Regions from separate parts of the Homo sapiens genome. Here regions 1, 2 and 4 are each reported to be linked to region 3. Evidence: microRNA targets listed by miRTarBase, many of them from high-throughput screens and not tested one by one. Region 3 holds a microRNA gene; each other region holds the end of a gene's coding sequence.
What was found. Region 3 holds the annotated microRNA hsa-miR-6086 (GGAGGUUGGGAAGGGCAGAG, at 1,874-1,893, shown strand). A microRNA usually pairs through its seed, bases 2 to 8, with sites in the 3' UTR of a target mRNA and lowers its output. Matches are read on the target gene's strand: a 7mer-m8 pairs with bases 2 to 8, a 7mer-A1 pairs with bases 2 to 7 and ends in A, and an 8mer does both.

Region 1: the mRNA of NARF is a reported target of hsa-miR-6086. Seed matches in the 3' UTR shown: 7mer-m8 at 954-960, 7mer-m8 at 2,406-2,412 and 7mer-m8 at 3,003-3,009.
Region 2: miRTarBase lists ITGAX as a target of hsa-miR-6086. Seed matches in the 3' UTR shown: 7mer-m8 at 3,187-3,193.
Region 4: miRTarBase lists PEX11B as a target of hsa-miR-6086. Seed matches in the 3' UTR shown: 7mer-m8 at 1,317-1,323.

Annotation. Positions count from the first base shown.
Region 1 is chr17:82,487,501-82,491,721 of GRCh38, forward strand. NARF (nuclear prelamin A recognition factor) reads left to right here. Exons shown (of 11, transcript NM_012336.4): 11 at 416-3,037. The coding sequence ends at 657. Among named protein-coding and RNA genes, the nearest start is that of TRX-CAT1-8, 5.2 kb to the right of the region's middle. RefSeq lists an enhancer at 3,152-3,351.
Region 2 is chr16:31,381,296-31,385,516 of GRCh38, reverse strand. ITGAX (integrin subunit alpha X) reads right to left here. Exons shown (of 30, transcript NM_000887.5): 30 at 2,518-3,714. The coding sequence ends at 3,610. Among named protein-coding and RNA genes, the nearest start is that of ITGAD, 9.9 kb to the left of the region's middle. RefSeq lists enhancers at 2,409-2,909, 2,910-3,410.
Region 3 is chrX:13,588,420-13,592,640 of GRCh38, forward strand. It overlaps MIR6086 (microRNA 6086), which reads left to right and starts at 1,873; the gene lies at 1,873-1,927. EGFL6 (EGF like domain multiple 6) reads left to right here. Exons shown (of 12, transcript NM_015507.4): 2 at 1,137-1,249.
Region 4 is chr1:145,908,915-145,912,914 of GRCh38, reverse strand. It overlaps PEX11B (peroxisomal biogenesis factor 11 beta), which reads left to right. Exons shown (of 4, transcript NM_003846.3): 4 at 349-1,565. The coding sequence ends at 754. ITGA10 (integrin subunit alpha 10) reads left to right here and starts at 2,865. Exons shown (of 30, transcript NM_003637.5): 1 at 2,865-2,952. The coding sequence starts at 2,901.

The DNA.
Region 1 (4,221 bases), not on the chromosome of region 3:
AGAATGAGAGGCACACGGGGCTGTGAGTCTGGGATCAGTGTCCCTGACAGCCTTGAGGAAGACCCTGGCCTGTTCAGCCAGCCCTAGCCTTAGGCCACACAACATTCCACGTCCCCTTTATTCCTCTCCTGCTTCCAACTCTTCCCTGTGAGGCAAAACTTCCTTAAGACTATCCCGGCTGGGTGCGGTGGCTCACGCCAGTGGTCCCAGCTCGAAGTAGGATTGCCGCTTGAAGCCAGGAGTTCAAGACCAGCCTGAGCAACATAGCAACACCCGCCCCTCCCGCCCAATCTCTACAAAAAATTTAAAAATCAGCCGGGCAAGGTGGTGTGTGTCTGTAGTTCTAGCTGCTCAGGAAGCTAAGGCAGAAAGATCGCCTGAGCCCAGGATAAACTTACCTGTGTTTATCTTTCAGGATGCTTAAATGGCAGAGGCCAAGCCCAGACTCCAGACGGACATGCGGATAAGGCCCTGCTGCGGCAGATGGAAGGCATTTACGCTGACATCCCTGTGCGGCGTCCGGAGTCCAGTGCACACGTGCAGGAGCTGTACCAGGAGTGGCTGGAGGGGATCAACTCCCCCAAGGCCCGAGAGGTGCTGCATACCACGTACCAGAGCCAGGAGCGTGGCACACACAGCCTGGACATCAAGTGGTGAAGTCAGGCCAGGGCCTTCCAGCTGCTCTTGGGGCCAGAGCCAAGAGCCTCTCAGTAGAGGGAGGGGCTGCCCTGAGTGGAGTATTAAAGACACTTAAGAAAACCGCTCAATGGATTACTTTGGTTTCTCCGAGTTCCCTGCTACCCCGTTTATTGGAGGCCCCTCAGGCAGTTTCATGTGGTGCTATCTTCATAATAGGTGTGGGATTGGAACTTTTTTTTTCTTTTTTTTTTTTTGAGACGGAGTCTCACTCTGTCACCCAGGCTGGAGTGCAATGGCGCAATCTCAGCTCACTGCAACCTCTGCCTCCCGGGTTCAAGCGATTCTCTTGCCCCAGCCTCCCGAGTAGCTGGGACTAACGCGCACACCACCATGCCCAGCTAATTTTTGTATTTTTAGTAGAGATGGGGTTTCACTATGTTGGCCAGGCTGGTATTGAATTCCTGACCTCCTGATCCACCCGCCTTGGCCTCCCAAAGTGCCAGGACTGCAGGCATGAGCCACCGTGCCTGGCAGATTGGAACGTTTTAACATGAGAGGAGCACTTCCCCAATTTATCCCTTCATCCTAAGATTGTGAAAAAGTCCCAAAGAGTGGGAATGGAGACAGACTACTGTATTTTAGGTTTAAAAAGAAAAATCCAGAAAGTGTCCTGTGAAGAGCTAGGACCCCCAGAGGTTCTAATGCACATGACTTGAAGGTGATTTGATGTGGGAGTGAGGGCAGAGGGTGGGGTGGCTGTGCCTGTGGACTCCTGTGGCCCTGGGGTTGTTAGGGCAGGCAGTCCACAGTCCCAGATCCCTGCCCATTTTGGCTCTTTCTTTTACCCACTCATATTTTCCTTGAAAATGTTTTTGCCAGAACATTAATAACTGTCAGCCTTTTAGAATCAGGAGACTTACGTACAAATCTGGATTTTCAGCTTTTCTTAGAAAAACTGTAGTTTCTGACAACAGTAGGCCCCATTCCTCACAGCCAGTCACCACCCTCCTCCCATTCCTCACAGCCAGTCACCACCCTCCTGGACCATACTCGGCCCTGGGCCATTCCTCACAGCCAGTCACCACCCTCCTCCCATTCCTCACAGCCAGTCACCACCCTCCTGGACCACACTCGGCCCTGGGCCATTCCTCACAGCCAGTCACCACCCTCCTGGACCATACTCAGGGCCCTGGAGGCCTGGCAACCCAGGCCCCAACTCAAACTTGTACATTCAGTCTTTCAGTCGGACTCGCACTGGGGCAAGGGTGACAGACACGAGAATGGAAAATTGAGAAGGCTGCCCGCACCAGCTGGGTGGGTGCAGGGGGCCCCAGCTCATCATCAGCACTGTCGTGGGGTGGGAGTCGGGGGTAAAGGTTCCGTCTGACCCTGAGGGGTTGAGGATATTCAGGTGGTCCAGCCTCCCGCAGAAGACTTCCCTGTCACCCTTGGCAGACAGGTTTCTTCTCACACGGCCCTGGCCCATCCACTCGCCATGAAGCCCTCTGTGCTCAGGGTGATGGAGCCCCCTCCATTCTGGCACTGCACTGTGGGCATGAGCTTGCCTTAAAAAGAAAGGAGAGGCCAGGCACGGTGGCTCGTGCCCTATAATCCCAGCACACTGGGAGGCCAAGGTGGGAGGATTGCTGGAGTCCAGGAGTTTCTACATGGGAGACTCTGTCTCTACAAATTTTTTTTTTTTTTTTGAGACAGAGTCTCACTTTGTCACCCAGGCTGGAGTTCAGTGGCGTGATCTCGGCTCACAGCAACCTCCGCCTCCTGGGTTCAAGCGATTCTCCTGCCTCAGCCTCTGGAGTAGCTGGGATTACAGGCGCGCGCCACCGCGCCTGGCTAATTGTATTCTTAGTTGAGACGGGTTTCGCCATGTTGATCGGGCCGGTCAGGCTGGAATTTCTGACCTCAGGTGATCCAACCACCTCAGCCTCCCAAAATGCTGGGATTACAGGCGTGAGCCACTGCACCTGGCAAAAAATTTTTTTTTAAAAAGGAGAAAGCAGTTTAACCACAAACAGTGAAACAGAGCTGGCAGACGCCTGAAACTCCATGGAACCATGCAGCTGTACCCTAGGGCTCCTCCCAGGAAAAGAGAGATGTCAACGTGGCCCAAGGTGTCCTGAAGCACTGGGATTGGATTAACTCGAGCGATGGCCTTCCCAGCCCTCCGTGCTGCAGAGCCTCTGCTCGCTAGGCTGCCTTCATCTCACTCTGTGTGCTGTGCCTGTGCACCTGTCTTGTCAATAACTGCATATATTGTGTTGCGTTGCCTGTCTTGCTGGATAACTGCATATATTGTGTTCAGTTGTGTATTTGTTTTGCTTTCAGTCTATATACAGTTGGGTTTCCAACCTCTGATTCTGGAATAAACAGTTGCAGCGTGTCTGAGTGAATGGTTGAGTGAGCCGAGCCACCTGCTGCCCCAGCAGGGCCACATCTTGTGGTGTGTTGCCGTCCTCACTGCGGCCACGCCAGGTGGCCTCGCCCTGTGCTTTCTGAGCCACCACCTGGTGTGGAGTCAGGAGAGTCCTCTGTCTCCCTCCAGGAAGCTGCTCACCAGGCCTAGAACACCAGAAGTCGGTAGAGGGCCACCCTTGTCCAGCTACAGTGAAGAGATCACCTCCTGCAGTAACCACTGCGCAGGGCACCACAGCTGGCCTGCCGTGAAGCCGCCCCTGCAGGTCGCGTGGGGAGGCCAGGCTGAGGCACTGGGCACCAACATGAGACACCAGAGGTCCCCCGTGCCTGCTGGTGGGTTATAGCCATGGGGACTGTGTGCATTTTCTTCTGCACAGGAGAAAAGTGGCGAGATTTCCTTCATTGTAACCGGAACGGTATTAGCCGTCAGGCCAAGGCGCCTAGATGTGGAGGCAGCACACTGGTCGGGAGGGATGGTGTGCCTGGCCCGTGCCTGCTGGTGAGCCAGGCTGGTCCTGGCATGAGGCAGCACGCTGGTTGGGGGGATGGTGTGCCCGGCCCGTGCCCGCTGGTGATCCAGGCTGACCTGGGGGGATGGTGTGCCCGGCCCATGCCCACTAGTGAGCCAGGCTGGTCCTGGTGTGAGGAGGAGGAGGAGGAGGAGGACGAGATGAGCCCTGGGTGGCATCCCGTGCTGGCACCACCATGTAGGAACATGGCCATGTGTGCTCTGGTGCTGCCATGTACTGCAGGGGACCGGAACACGTCTGAGCTGATAAACGTGTTGCCATCCCAGTGAACAGATCTGCTGTTCGGTGCCTGTGGTCTGATGGGCAGCGCCTAGGTTTCTCAATTCCATTTCCACCTGGCCTGAGAGCTTGTACTCGTCGCAGCCAGTGTAGACTGTCCGCACTGGTCCTTAGTGTTGCTGCAGTTGCAAATGGGCTCATCCACTGTGCCTGCCTGTTGGTTTGCCGCTTGCCTGGGATGTAGATCTAGGGTGAACCCTTGGGTGTGTGCCGGCTTTGAGGGTGTCCCATGGCCTCATCTGCGGGCCCAGAGCTGAGCAACTGAGGCGTCTGGACACATGGCCTGCCACAGTCGTGTGACCTTCACGCCGAGTCTAGGCCAGAGATGTCAGAGGAGGGA
Region 2 (4,221 bases), not on the chromosome of region 3:
TCCTCTGTATTCGGTGACAACACTAATCACTTTTGAATAGGAAAGCTACATGTAGCAGTTGTTCTAAGAAATCTCTATTGCTTTACCTGAGGCAGGCAGATCATGAGGTCAGGGGTTCGAGACCAGCCTGACCAACATGGTGAAACCCCCGTCTATACTAAAAATACAAAAATTAGCTGGGCGTGGTGGTGCGCGCCTGTAATCCCAGCTACTCAAGAGGCTGAGGCAGGAGAATCACTTGAACCCAGGAGGCAAAGGTTGCAGTGAGCCAAGATGATGCCACTGCACTCCAGCCTGGGCGACAGAGCAAGACTCCATCTCAATAAATAAATAAATAAGAAAATAACACAAAAGCTTTCAGAGGTTCATGCGACTGTTTGATAAAGTTTCAGAATGGGCAGCACACTAGGGACAAATACATGTCAGAACCAATACAACCTACCTGTCAGGGAGTATAATACCTTCTAGATATTTTCGGGTTTTGGCTCACAATCACTTATTCCGGTATGCATGTCTATACTATACGTGCACTGGGCTCAATATTTAAAAGTCAATATTGACTTTGATGACATTATTGTAAATTGTAGCAATTAGATTAGTTTTTAATCACAACTTCCATGCTTTTGAGCCATTGATCCATTTTGTGATTCGGGGATCTAATGCAACACAATAGCCAACCCTGAAAATGCAAATGTAATAAATGTACACAATAACACACAAAGGAAGAATATCAGAAAATAACACCTTGTCGGCCAAGTACAGTGGCTCATACCTCTAATCCCAGCACTTTCGGAGGCCGAGGAGGGCGGATCATGAGGTCAGGAGTTCGAGACCAGCCTAGTCAACATGGTGAAACCCCATCTATACTAAAAATACAAAAATTAGCTGGAAATGGTGGTGCCTGCCTGTAATCCCAGCTACTCCAGAGGCTGAGGCAGGAGAATCGCTTGAACTTGAACCTGGGAGGCGGAGGTTGCAGTGAGCCAAGATCATGCCACTGCACTCCAGCCTGGGTGACAGAGCGAGACTCTGTCTCAAAAATAAATAAATAAAAATGGGCATGGTGGTACGCCCCTGTACTCCCAGCTACTTGGGAGGCTGAGGCAGAGGCATCACTTGAACCCAGGAGACAGAGGTTGCGTTGAGCCGAGATCGTGCCACTACACTCCAGCCCGGGAGACAAAGTGAGACTATCTCAAAAAATAATAATAATAAAATAAAATAGAAAATAACAACTTGTTGCCTGAATTTAGACAAGAACCCACTGTAGTCCCTGGAGTCCGTGTGCCACACAATTATTAAGGCCACAACACTATTTCTGTGCAAATCACTAGTTTCAAATGTTTGAGATGTATGGGTTTCTTGCTCTTTTTCTCTAAAACCTTCCACTTAGAAGACCATCATTGACCACCAGTGGTTCGTGGAACACATTTTGAGAAACACCACTCTAGGGTCAATTTTTTTTTTTTTTTCTGAGACATGATCTTTCTCTGTTGCCCAGGCTGGAGTGTGGTGGTCCAAATCACAGCTCACTGTATCCTCAACCTCCCAGGCTCAAGTGATCCTCCTGCTTCAGCCTACCAAGTAGCTGGGACTACAAGCACATGCCACCATGCCTGGGTAATTTTTAAATTTTTTTGTAGACACAAGGTTTCAATATATTACCCAGGGTGGTCTCAAATTTCTGAGCACAAACAATCCTCCTGCCTCGGCCTCCCAAAGTGCTGGGATTACAGGCATGAGCCACTGTGCCCAGCCATTAGGGCTGAATTCTTACAAAGCCTTATCTTCTGATTCCCTTTCTGAGGAAACTGCATAATAATTAGTCATCCTGGGGACTCAAAAGCTTCAAAATCCACAGGGATTTTGGAGCCTCTGCTGATGTATAGGACAGACATTTTTGGCTGGAGGTAAAGGGCCACTTTCCATCTTCCCTTCAAATCACTCAACTGCCTCCCTTCTGTTTTTCTAATTGAAACATCCACACGGCCCGGGTCCCTTGCTGGTGATAGCTGCAGTGGCGTCACTCCGAGGTCAGGAATGGCTTGTCCTGTGAGGCCCCCAGCTCAGTGCCAAGCACCATGATGAACTTTATGCCAGGATGGTGGCATAATAGCAAGAATGACCTTATTGTGGGCAGCAGCTCTCAATGTGGGACCCCAACATGTTCTTCAATCACTCACTATATGCAGACAGTGTGCCCTTCAACACATCCTAGGACTTGTAGGAAACGCTTGTGAGTATTGGTCACTCCAGAGACCTTTCCAGGTGGAAAAGTAGCCACTGGAGGTTGTCCCTTCTCTATTCTATGCCCCCTCCACCCGACAGCTCCACCAGCTTACCATCGGCACCAGCCCTGAGAGTGGAGTGAGCAGATTAAGAGGTCAGGTTACTTCCAAGAGAGGGATATTCACAACCCTACTCTGGTTAACTTCTTGTCCTGGCCCCAGGCCTCAGTGCTGGCCAGGGTCCACCGTGGTAAAGGGACCCCATGGGTGTCATCCTTCAGGACTCATATCCACAGAAGGCTTTTTTATTTTTAGACCTTTGACATATTTCCCAAGAGCGGTAGATGCATCTTTTTGTGCATGTTTTAATTTATTAACACAAACATTTAAAGTACGCTTTTTAAAAAAATAATCATGTCTTGGCATTTTTTCAGGTACTATATTCATAGCCTCAAAAAATAGAAGTGGTTGGGTCTCTTCTGCCCCTGGGGCTGGGTGAGCTGCAGCCGCACCGGGGCCATGTCCCTCCCTAGAGGGCGCTCCTCCCTTCCAGCCAGCAATGTTGCCCAACGCGGGAGGCCAGCTGTGCAGAACCCAGCATGCAGGCATCTCACTCCCAATTCAGCCTGGGAAATCGGAACTGAGAGCCCCACGATGAAGCCCTGAGCTGATGCTGACATGACACTAATTCACTGGAAACGAGGGTGATGGGGGCACAGAGCCTCTCATGCTGTGCGCCCTGAAGCCCACCCTCTGGGATGGAAGGGGACTTCTCACGCGAAGCTGGAGAGTTCAGACATTGTCCTGAGGGTAATGGGGAGCTGTTGAAGACAGGTGGGGATGAGCAGCATATTCAGAACTGTATTTTAGAAAGATCGGGCCGGGCGAGGTGGCGTGTGCCTGTAGTCCCAGCTACTCAGGAGGCTGAGACAGCAGAATTACTTGAACCCGGGAGGCGGAGGTTGCAGTGAGCCGAGATCACGCCATTGCACTCCAGCCTGGGTGACAGAGCGAGACTCCGTCTCAAAAAAAAAAAAAAGAAAAGAAAAAAAAAAAAAAAGAAAGGAAAGAAAGATCATTCGTGCCTCATGGGAGAAGGGAGACTGAGGCCTGGGGGTATTGTCCATGTATTTCTAGGTAGAAATTGCAAGTCAAGTCCTTTGGGGAACACAGCAGGGACCCTGTCCTAAGGGTTTCCAGTTGGAACCTTGACAAGACAAAGGCCCCTTCCCAAGCAAGACGTTTTCTCCCAAAGACAGGAAGCAGGCCCATCCCAGCCTCTCTCGGTGGTGCAGTGGTTCCTCCCCGTCAGGCCTGACAGGTGAGGGTAAGTAAGTGGGGAAAACTCGCGGGGGAGAAGAAGTCCAAGGCAAAGAGGGGATCATTTCTCACTGGGCGGGCTGGGGGTCTGTGTCCCGTTTTCTGGGGCAATTTGTCCATTTGCCTCCTCCATCATTTCCTTGTACTGACGCTTGAAGAAGCCAACCTAGGGGGGAGGACGAAGAAGAAACTCAGGAAGCCCATTCAGTGGAAGAGAGGAAAAGAGATGACTGAGGGAGAGGGGTCACTATTTCTGAAATCCTTGCTAGGTTCAAAGCACTGCACTAGGAACTTTATATGCATCATGTCATCTAGATTTAGCCAAAATTATTTTCTTTTTGAGATGGAGTCTCACTCTGTTGCCCAGGCTGGAGTGCAGTGGCGTGATCTCGGCTCACTGCAACCTCCACCATGCCCAACTAATTTTTGTATTTTTAGTAGAGACGGGGTTTCACCAGGTAGGCCAGGCTGGTCTCTTAACTCCTGACTTCAAGTGATCCACCTGCCTCGATCTCCCAAACTGCTGGGATTACAGCCATGAGCCACCGTGCCCAGCCTAGATTTAGCCAAAATTCTATGAGCTGGGGTAGAATCACCTTCACATTGAGAAATCAAGGCCCAGAGTGGAGCAGACACTGGCCTATGGTCAAAGACAAAAAGAACCCGTGGTGAT
Region 3 (4,221 bases):
TACAGTGTATTTAATATGTGTAAGGAAATAATCACAGCCCTCCACTAAACATACAATGCAAGTATTTTCCTTCAAAGTCTGGTAGCAACCCTGTCCAATACCAGGACAGTAAGTAGGTAAACATGCAGTGAGCTTCATCCATGGCGGCACTACTTGGGGGCACTTGGTGGGGGACAGGGGGCTCACCTTTTTCAGGCATCTAGATCAGGCAAGCTACAGCCTGCTGGCCAAAGCTAGGTGATCCCCTCTTTATAAACAGCCCATGAGCGAAGAACAGTTTTTACATTTTTAAATGTTAGAAGATGGAGCAAAAGGAGAATACCATATCATGACACAGGAAAATTATATGCTATTCAAATTACAGTGTCCATAAATAAAGTTTTATTGGAACACAGTCATGCGCATCTGTTTACTATTGCCTATGGCTGCTTTTGTACTTGGACAGATATCTTATGGCCCTACAAAGCCTAAAATACTTACCATCTGGCTTTTTACAGAAAATGTTTGCCGATCTCTGCTCTAAAATTAAGCAGTTTAGCAAATTGGGTTTCCAGGAGGTCAATGGGAACGAGCCCTGGGCTAGAATTCCCAACACCCAGCTCTGCTGGGGATGTGACTCCACTCCATTGGACTGGAGTTTCCTCCTCTGTAACATAAGAGGGCTTTGCTGAACGAGCCCTTCCAACTCTTAATCATCTATAGTGTATGTTGATTCCAGTCTATTCAATGGTTCCCAGGTGCCAGTGGGATAAAAGTGCAGAGCTCTGGTCTGGGACAAAGCCACAGGATTAGAAAGTGACTGAAATAGACAAAGAACTGGATAGTTGCTGTGCGTATACAGAGCAGATCTGAAAAGTGACACTCTACAAGGTTCAAAAACATATACTTTGGACATCTTCATGTGCCCTAGTTTTATAGATTCTTTTAACCGTGGGGAAGAAGGAAATGGTTGAAACTAATTATTGAGGAAGGCTGGCAACCCCAAAATTCAGGTTTTCAAAATCTAATTTAGCACTTACTGCGGGTTCGTTGAAATTAACCAGGTAATTGACATCTCTGGTTCTTTTAGTAGTAGGGAAGAGTTTCTGTTGTCTTTTCTATTTTCTCAATACTAACATGTAGTTCTTTATCTGCAGTGCAAGGCATCACGGGTTGTTAGCATCGGCACGTCAGCCTGGGGTCTGTCACTATGGAACTAAACTGGCCTGCTGCTACGGCTGGAGAAGAAACAGCAAGGGAGTCTGTGAAGGTAATTTTGTAAAAACTCAGACCCTGCACTTGGATCAGGGCCCTTAGGTTTTTATCTGTCATACCATGAACTGCCACAAAATTGCCAGTGGATCTCTCAGGCAAGGACATGCATAACTACCAATAACCAAGGTCTGGGTTCCTATGAGATCTCTTCCCAGACAAAATGTGGCTGACGCCATCATACTTGGCATGATTTATTTTAGAAGACTGTCTTGTCAATTATTTTTGTGATTATCTTAATGAGTATGACTGGGTTGTTTGTTTTTGGTTTTCTTTTTAATCTAAAGGAACTAAGATGGGCAAAAGCAGGCTGGTAAATTTCTCCTCTAATTATAATTTAAGTGATTTCCAATGCAATAAACTTTAATTATTAATCACCCAACCAGTAGGCTTCAGCCACAAAATAAGTACACCTTTTAGCTTATAGATTTGTAACTCACATTTTTAAAATTCATACTGCCAATTTCTAAATGCTTTCAAGGTACATATGCATATATGCAAAGATTTTAAGTATTTTGCTGATTTTTTTGTACATTGCAAACCAAGGAACCATAATTTGCCTTGGACATTGTTTCTCAGACTATGTGTTAGGAACTCCGAGAGAGGCCTCTGATCATTTCAAGGAGGTTGGGAAGGGCAGAGATGAGCATAAAGTTTTTGCCTTGTTTTTCTTTTTATGACTTTCCATAACGACCAACACTGGCAGTGTAGCAGAACCAAATCCACATTCCTCCTGACTGTCTCACCAGGGGTGTATTCCTTCAGGGCAGTAGTCTACTCTCACTGTCCCTGTGTCCTTCAGTAGGTAGCATGTGCCTCATCCTAAGTTATTTATCTATTAAATGGGATAACAACACAGTTGCAGGTCCCATAAAAGCACTAACATGTTAGCTATTTTTAGGAATAACAATGCTACCTTCTTTTTGCTAGTCTGTTCCTGCCCCAACCTCCTTCTCTCTGGCTGGTTAAAAAATATCTGGATTGACCATAAGTGGGGTCAGAACTTGATAATATCCAAAATCTATAAAACAATAGAAAACATTGATATCGTTCCCACATGTTCCATATTATGCAAAACCTTCTGCCATCATAGTTTGCTTGTGACAAGATGACAAGAGCATAAAAATACTAGACAAAAACAAAGATCATCATTGCCCACTTAGATAAAGGAAGTTAGAATATCCTCCTGGGACTTGTGTCAATTAAAAGGGTGGGTCCTCATCCTGATTGGATTGATAGTGTCATGATCAAGGGCATTGAGAACCAGACTGACGTGGGTGACCTTGGGCAAGCTAGCTAAGGTAAGCTAGCTAAGGCTCAATTTCCTCCTCTGCAACCTGGAGAGAGCAATACCTACCTCTGAGAGTAAGGAATGTATGCATTAAAGGGTGAGTTCATTACCTGGCATGCATAGAAAATACCTCATAAATTACCATTCCTTCAGGAAGGACCAATAATTCTCATCACAGACTTCTCGTCATTAAAGCACCAGGTGATGGGGGGATTAAATGTGGCTTTATTCTTTTGCTAGACACAACATAACACATTTTTATTTGAAGTCAGTCAGGTGGAAAGGGGCAAAAACCACGTGAAACACATGATTTAGAGTCTCTCTTACAGTTGCACGAACATCAGCGTCTACTGCCATAAAACTTGTGAGACCCAGCATGTCGCTGGTGAATAAATGAAGGCAAGGTGTTAAAAGGGCAAGTGCAGGGGGTTCAAGCAAAATGCTCACTATGCAAGTTTTGCAAGCTGAAGAGACGGTCAGCACACCTACTGCTCCAGTCAAATGTTCAGGTCTTAAATTGCAATGATTTTTAGATCTAAAATGTGTATCATGTTTTATCCAATTTGCATGGTCCTTCTTGATGGTAAAGTCATGTTTCTTGAAGCACCAAATAACAGGGTAGTTATTCCCTGATTGCTGGGTTTCTGATTTCTAAGCCAGAGTTGTGGGATGCATGATAATAAGAATACACATCAACCTGCCCCAACAAGGAGAGCCAGACCCCAGGCTGTGAGGTCACAGTCTACCCAGGCCTTCCCCTCTGTCCATCTATTTGCCCTTCACTCCTTTTGAAGCCCTGCCTCTATGTATCCTGGAGCCTTCTAGCTCTCAGCCTCTACCCTGTCTAAATCTCCTCCCAAGGCAGGGTCTCATCAGTTCGATATCATTAACCTTAAAATGTATGCCACTTCAGTGAGATGAAATACAGAATTGTCCATAAACAAGTACCTGATGAAAAGCTTCAGATAGAGAAGTTTGGGGGAGAACCAAATAAGACTTTTACTTTGTCTAAATCATGCTTCAATCTCAGGCCATTTTAAACACAAACTGAATTTCCCTTGCTGTCGATTGGCTGTTGAAGTCACAGATCCAAAGTTACTGTAAATTGAAAACATCTTACTGAAGCTTTAACCTTATAGCAAGGGTATTATTCACCATTTCTCCTATGTTCTATTTGGCATTTATGCTGGGCTTTCCTGTCTGGACCACATTGGAAATCAGTTTCCAGGGAACAACTAGAGGTCTTCAGGGCTTAAAAAAAAAAAAAAAGATTTATTTTTCTAACATCTGAATTTAAAGTTGCAACTCCAAGTACATATCCATAACAAAGTAGACACTGGAAATTAAATTCTCTCTCTTTTGTCTCTAAAAGTGGAAAAACCTTGCTGGGGAAGCATTTTTCCCTTATGATTTGTTCAGGGCCATAAAATGTTCCCCCATTAAAAGTTCTACAGTAATTACTTTATTCATTATTCAAAAATATTCAAATATTTAACATGTTTACAACACTATATTAAATGCTACAGGGGAAACAATGATGAATGTTTAAGTCCCTGTCCTGAAGGCACTTGGAAACAAGTAGTGGATGAAAGACAAGCACTGTAGCCAAATATATGCCTCATTATTTAATAAGACAAAAACTGATCAGTTGCACAGGAGAGGCCTGCCAAAGTTCTGTG
Region 4 (4,000 bases), not on the chromosome of region 3:
GGTTTCACCATGTTGGCCAGGCTGGTCTTAAACTCCTGACCTCAGGTGATCCACCTGCCTTGGCCTCCCAAAGTGCTGGGATTACAGGCATGAGCCACCACGCCCGGCCTTATTTTAGCTTCCACCTATAAGTGAGATTATGCAGTATTTGTCTTTCTGTGTCTGGCTTATTTTGCTTAGCATAGTGTCCTCGATGGAGGACATTTCTAATAGGGGTAATAGCATTCACTTTACTTCTGATCTAATGTGTAATCTCTTTGCTACAGGAAAAGAAAATGTTAAAATGTGATGTTGGATATGTTAAGTAGGTATACATGCCCTTACTGACCCTTTTGCTCTGTGTATCAGGTACTATTTGTTTTCCCTCATCATGAATTTGAGCCGTGATGCTTATGAGATTCGCCTACTGATGGAGCAAGAGTCTTCTGCTTGTAGCCGGCGACTGAAAGGTTCTGGAGGAGGAGTCCCAGGAGGAAGTGAAACTGGGGGACTTGGGGGACCAGGGACTCCAGGAGGAGGTCTGCCCCAACTGGCTCTGAAACTTCGGCTGCAAGTCCTGCTCCTGGCTCGAGTCCTTAGAGGTCATCCCCCACTTCTGCTAGACGTGGTCAGAAATGCCTGTGATCTCTTCATTCCTCTGGACAAACTAGGCCTCTGGCGCTGTGGCCCTGGGATTGTGGGGCTTTGTGGCCTCGTGTCCTCCATCCTGTCTATTCTCACCCTAATCTATCCCTGGCTACGACTCAAGCCCTGACCTTCCGGTACAGGATAAGGAGGGGACCTGAATTGGTGAGATGGAATCTTAGATCGTCCCCCATGTGCCAGCCTCATTCGAATTCTACTCTTTGGTTAAAGTTAGAAATTCAGAGATTTAGGGGTGGAGGAAGAGCTTTGGGGAAGATGAGGTAAGGAAAGATGACTCGTGAAGTTAATAGGATGTCTCTAATTTCTAGATGTGCCTGAGCTTCTGTTCTTTTCCTCTTTCTTTGTGTCTCTCTTGAATATATTTACTTTGTGTCTCTTAACTCTGTTTAAGGTTCTGTGTCTATGCATCTCTCTCTTTCTTTTTTCAACCTTCTCATTCTCCTATCCAGGGATTTAATCAGCAGAATTACTTTTTGATAGGGGAGGTATAAGGTTTGGCCTGTAAGGTTCTAACTGCCTTCTTTTTTCTCACAGAGGTGGCTTATGGCAGATTTTTCCTCCTTCAAACTCCAAACATAATTTTTAAGACTATGTGCCAGTGGACTCTTCCCTTATATCTCTGCACCACAAGTTGTTGGATGTTTCCTCTTCCTCCCTTATGTCTACCTCACCAACCTCGCTCATCATTTGGCCCTTATCCTTCCTTGTACACCTACCTTCAGATTTCTGCTTACACTTTGATTTCAGAGCTTTATTCCCCAGTCTGTTCTTACTCCTTTGTCGCTTATCCAGAATGATGCTATGTGTAGCATCTTGCTGTAAATCCTGTACAATGATTCTGTGTAAATAGCTGTGGCCTATGCCAATAATGAAGAGCAAGCCTTTCAGGTAAGCAAATTAAAGTTCAGTTTGCTCATCGACATTTGGTCTGGTCCCTCATTTTTTGGTAATTTGAGGCCCCTATTCCTGTCACTGTGGTTTGGGTTTTTCTCGGGATTAGCCACTAACATCACCCACATTATTTTTCTTGAGCACCTACAGTATGTAAAGCAACATACTTAGTGGGCATCCAAAAATCTAAGAAGCTCCACACTCCCAACTTTAAGAAGTTTATAACCTAGCTGAGGAGTTGGGGTGGCAGAGGAGTGGTCTAATACTAAAGTTATTGTCCTGGCTCCACAAAGCACATCTCATACCAGTTCAGATATAATCCCTCTAAGAAGCAGAATGCCATATGACAGCATAGGCTAAGAGCCAAGGACAGAACCAAGTGGAGTGGGGCTGGTAAGGATTTGGAGCTGTGTCTTCACAAGTTGAGACTCCCCTGGGTGGGTAGGGAAATGATACCACTGCTATCAGCTCTTTCATTTTCCATATTCCAGGTTGAGATAAATAAGGTTAGGAAGTGAATCTATCGGCCAGGCGTGGTGGCTCACGCCGGTAATCCCAGCACTTTGGGAGGCCGAGGCAGGTGGATCTCTTAAGGTCAGGAGTTCAAGACCAGCCTGGCCAACATGGTGAAACCCTGCCTCTACTAAAAATAAAAAATTAGCCAGGCATGGTGGCATGTGCCTGTAGTCCCAGCTACCTGGGAGGCTGAGGCATGAGAAATGCTTGAACGTGGGAGACAGAGGTTGCAGTGAGCCAAGATTGTGCCACTGCACTCCAGCCTGGGTGACAGAGTGAGACTCTGCCTTAAAAAAGAAAAAAAAAAATCTGAATCTATCTCCTATCTCCCAGCTGGGTGCAGTGGCTCACTTTGGGAGGCTGAGGTGGGAGGATTCCTTGAGTTCAGGAGTTCAAGACCAGCCTGGGTAACATAGTGAAACCCTGTCTGTATTCTCAATATAAATAATTTGTCTAAAACTTTTAAACAAAAGTTTAAGATTCTTTTCTTATAAAAAAGAATCCATCTCCCACTCCTGTTCCAAATTTGAGGAAAGCATTATTGACCTGGCAACAATAAACAGTAGAAAAAAAGAAATAGCAGAAATGGGCAAAAAAATATGTTCTCTGGATATAGAGATGAGGCCTCCAGGGGGCAGCACCAAGGCAGAGAAATAGACTAAGATCGCTCAGTGTTTTCCTTGGTCTGGGGCTCCCCACAGTTCCCCACCATCACTCCTCCCATTCCTTCCAACTTTATTTTTAGCTGCCATTGGGAGGGGGCAGGATGGGAGGGAAAGTGAAGAAAACAGAAAAGGAGAGGGACAGAGGCCAGAGGACTTCTCATACTGGACAGAAACCGATCAGGCATGGAACTCCCCTTCGTCACTCACCTGTTCTTGCCCCTGGTGTTCCTGACAGGTGAGGGAAGTTAACTTCTTGGTTTCTGGTGGGGATGGAAGATACATAGATTGTTTGGAATTGGGACCATTATAGTTAAAATTCTTTGGGATTTAGGTTAGGAAGCGAACACTGGTTGTACATTTCTTGTATGTGTGTCTGTGTCCTTGTGCATTTTTATGCCCTCACATATGACTGTTTGAATATTGAGACTGGCAGGGGCTAAAGCTGCCTAGGACCTTGTGTAAGATTTGTATCTAATAATTATATAATATATAATGTATAATTATATATTATATATAATATACATATAATATATAACAATTATATATTATATATAATATACATATAATATATAACATAATTATATATTATATATAATATACATATAATATGTAACATAATTATATATTATATATAATATACATATAATATATAACATAATTATATATTATATATAATATACATATAATATATAACATAATTATATATTATATATAATATACATATAATATATAACATAATTATATATTATATAGTTATATATTGTATATAATAATTATTATTATTTTTTAAAGATAGGGTCTCACTTTGTTGTCTAGGCTGGAGTGCAGTGGTGCAACCACAGCTCAGTAGTTGGGACTACTAGGTACGCGCCACCACGCACAGCTAATTTTTTTTTTTGAAACAGGGTCTCACTCTGTCATTCAAGCTGGAGTGCAGTGGCATGATCATGGCTCACTCTAGCCTCAACCTCCCAGGCTGAGGTGATCCTTCCACCTTAGCCTCCCGAGTAGCTGGGACTATAGGCGTGTGCTACCACGCCTGGCTAATTTTTTTTTTTTTAGAGACAGAGTTTTGCTATGTTGGCCAGGCTGGTCTTTAACTCCTGGACTCAAGCAATCCGCCCCCGACAGCCACCCAAAGTGCCGGGATTATAGGCATGAGCCACCATGCTTGGCTGAGATTTGTATCTAAATATATAAAATCTTCATCCTAAGCCCTATAGGGGTAAGGAGACAAAAAAGAAATGTGATGTGACCTTCCACGTGGCTAGTCTGATTCCTAT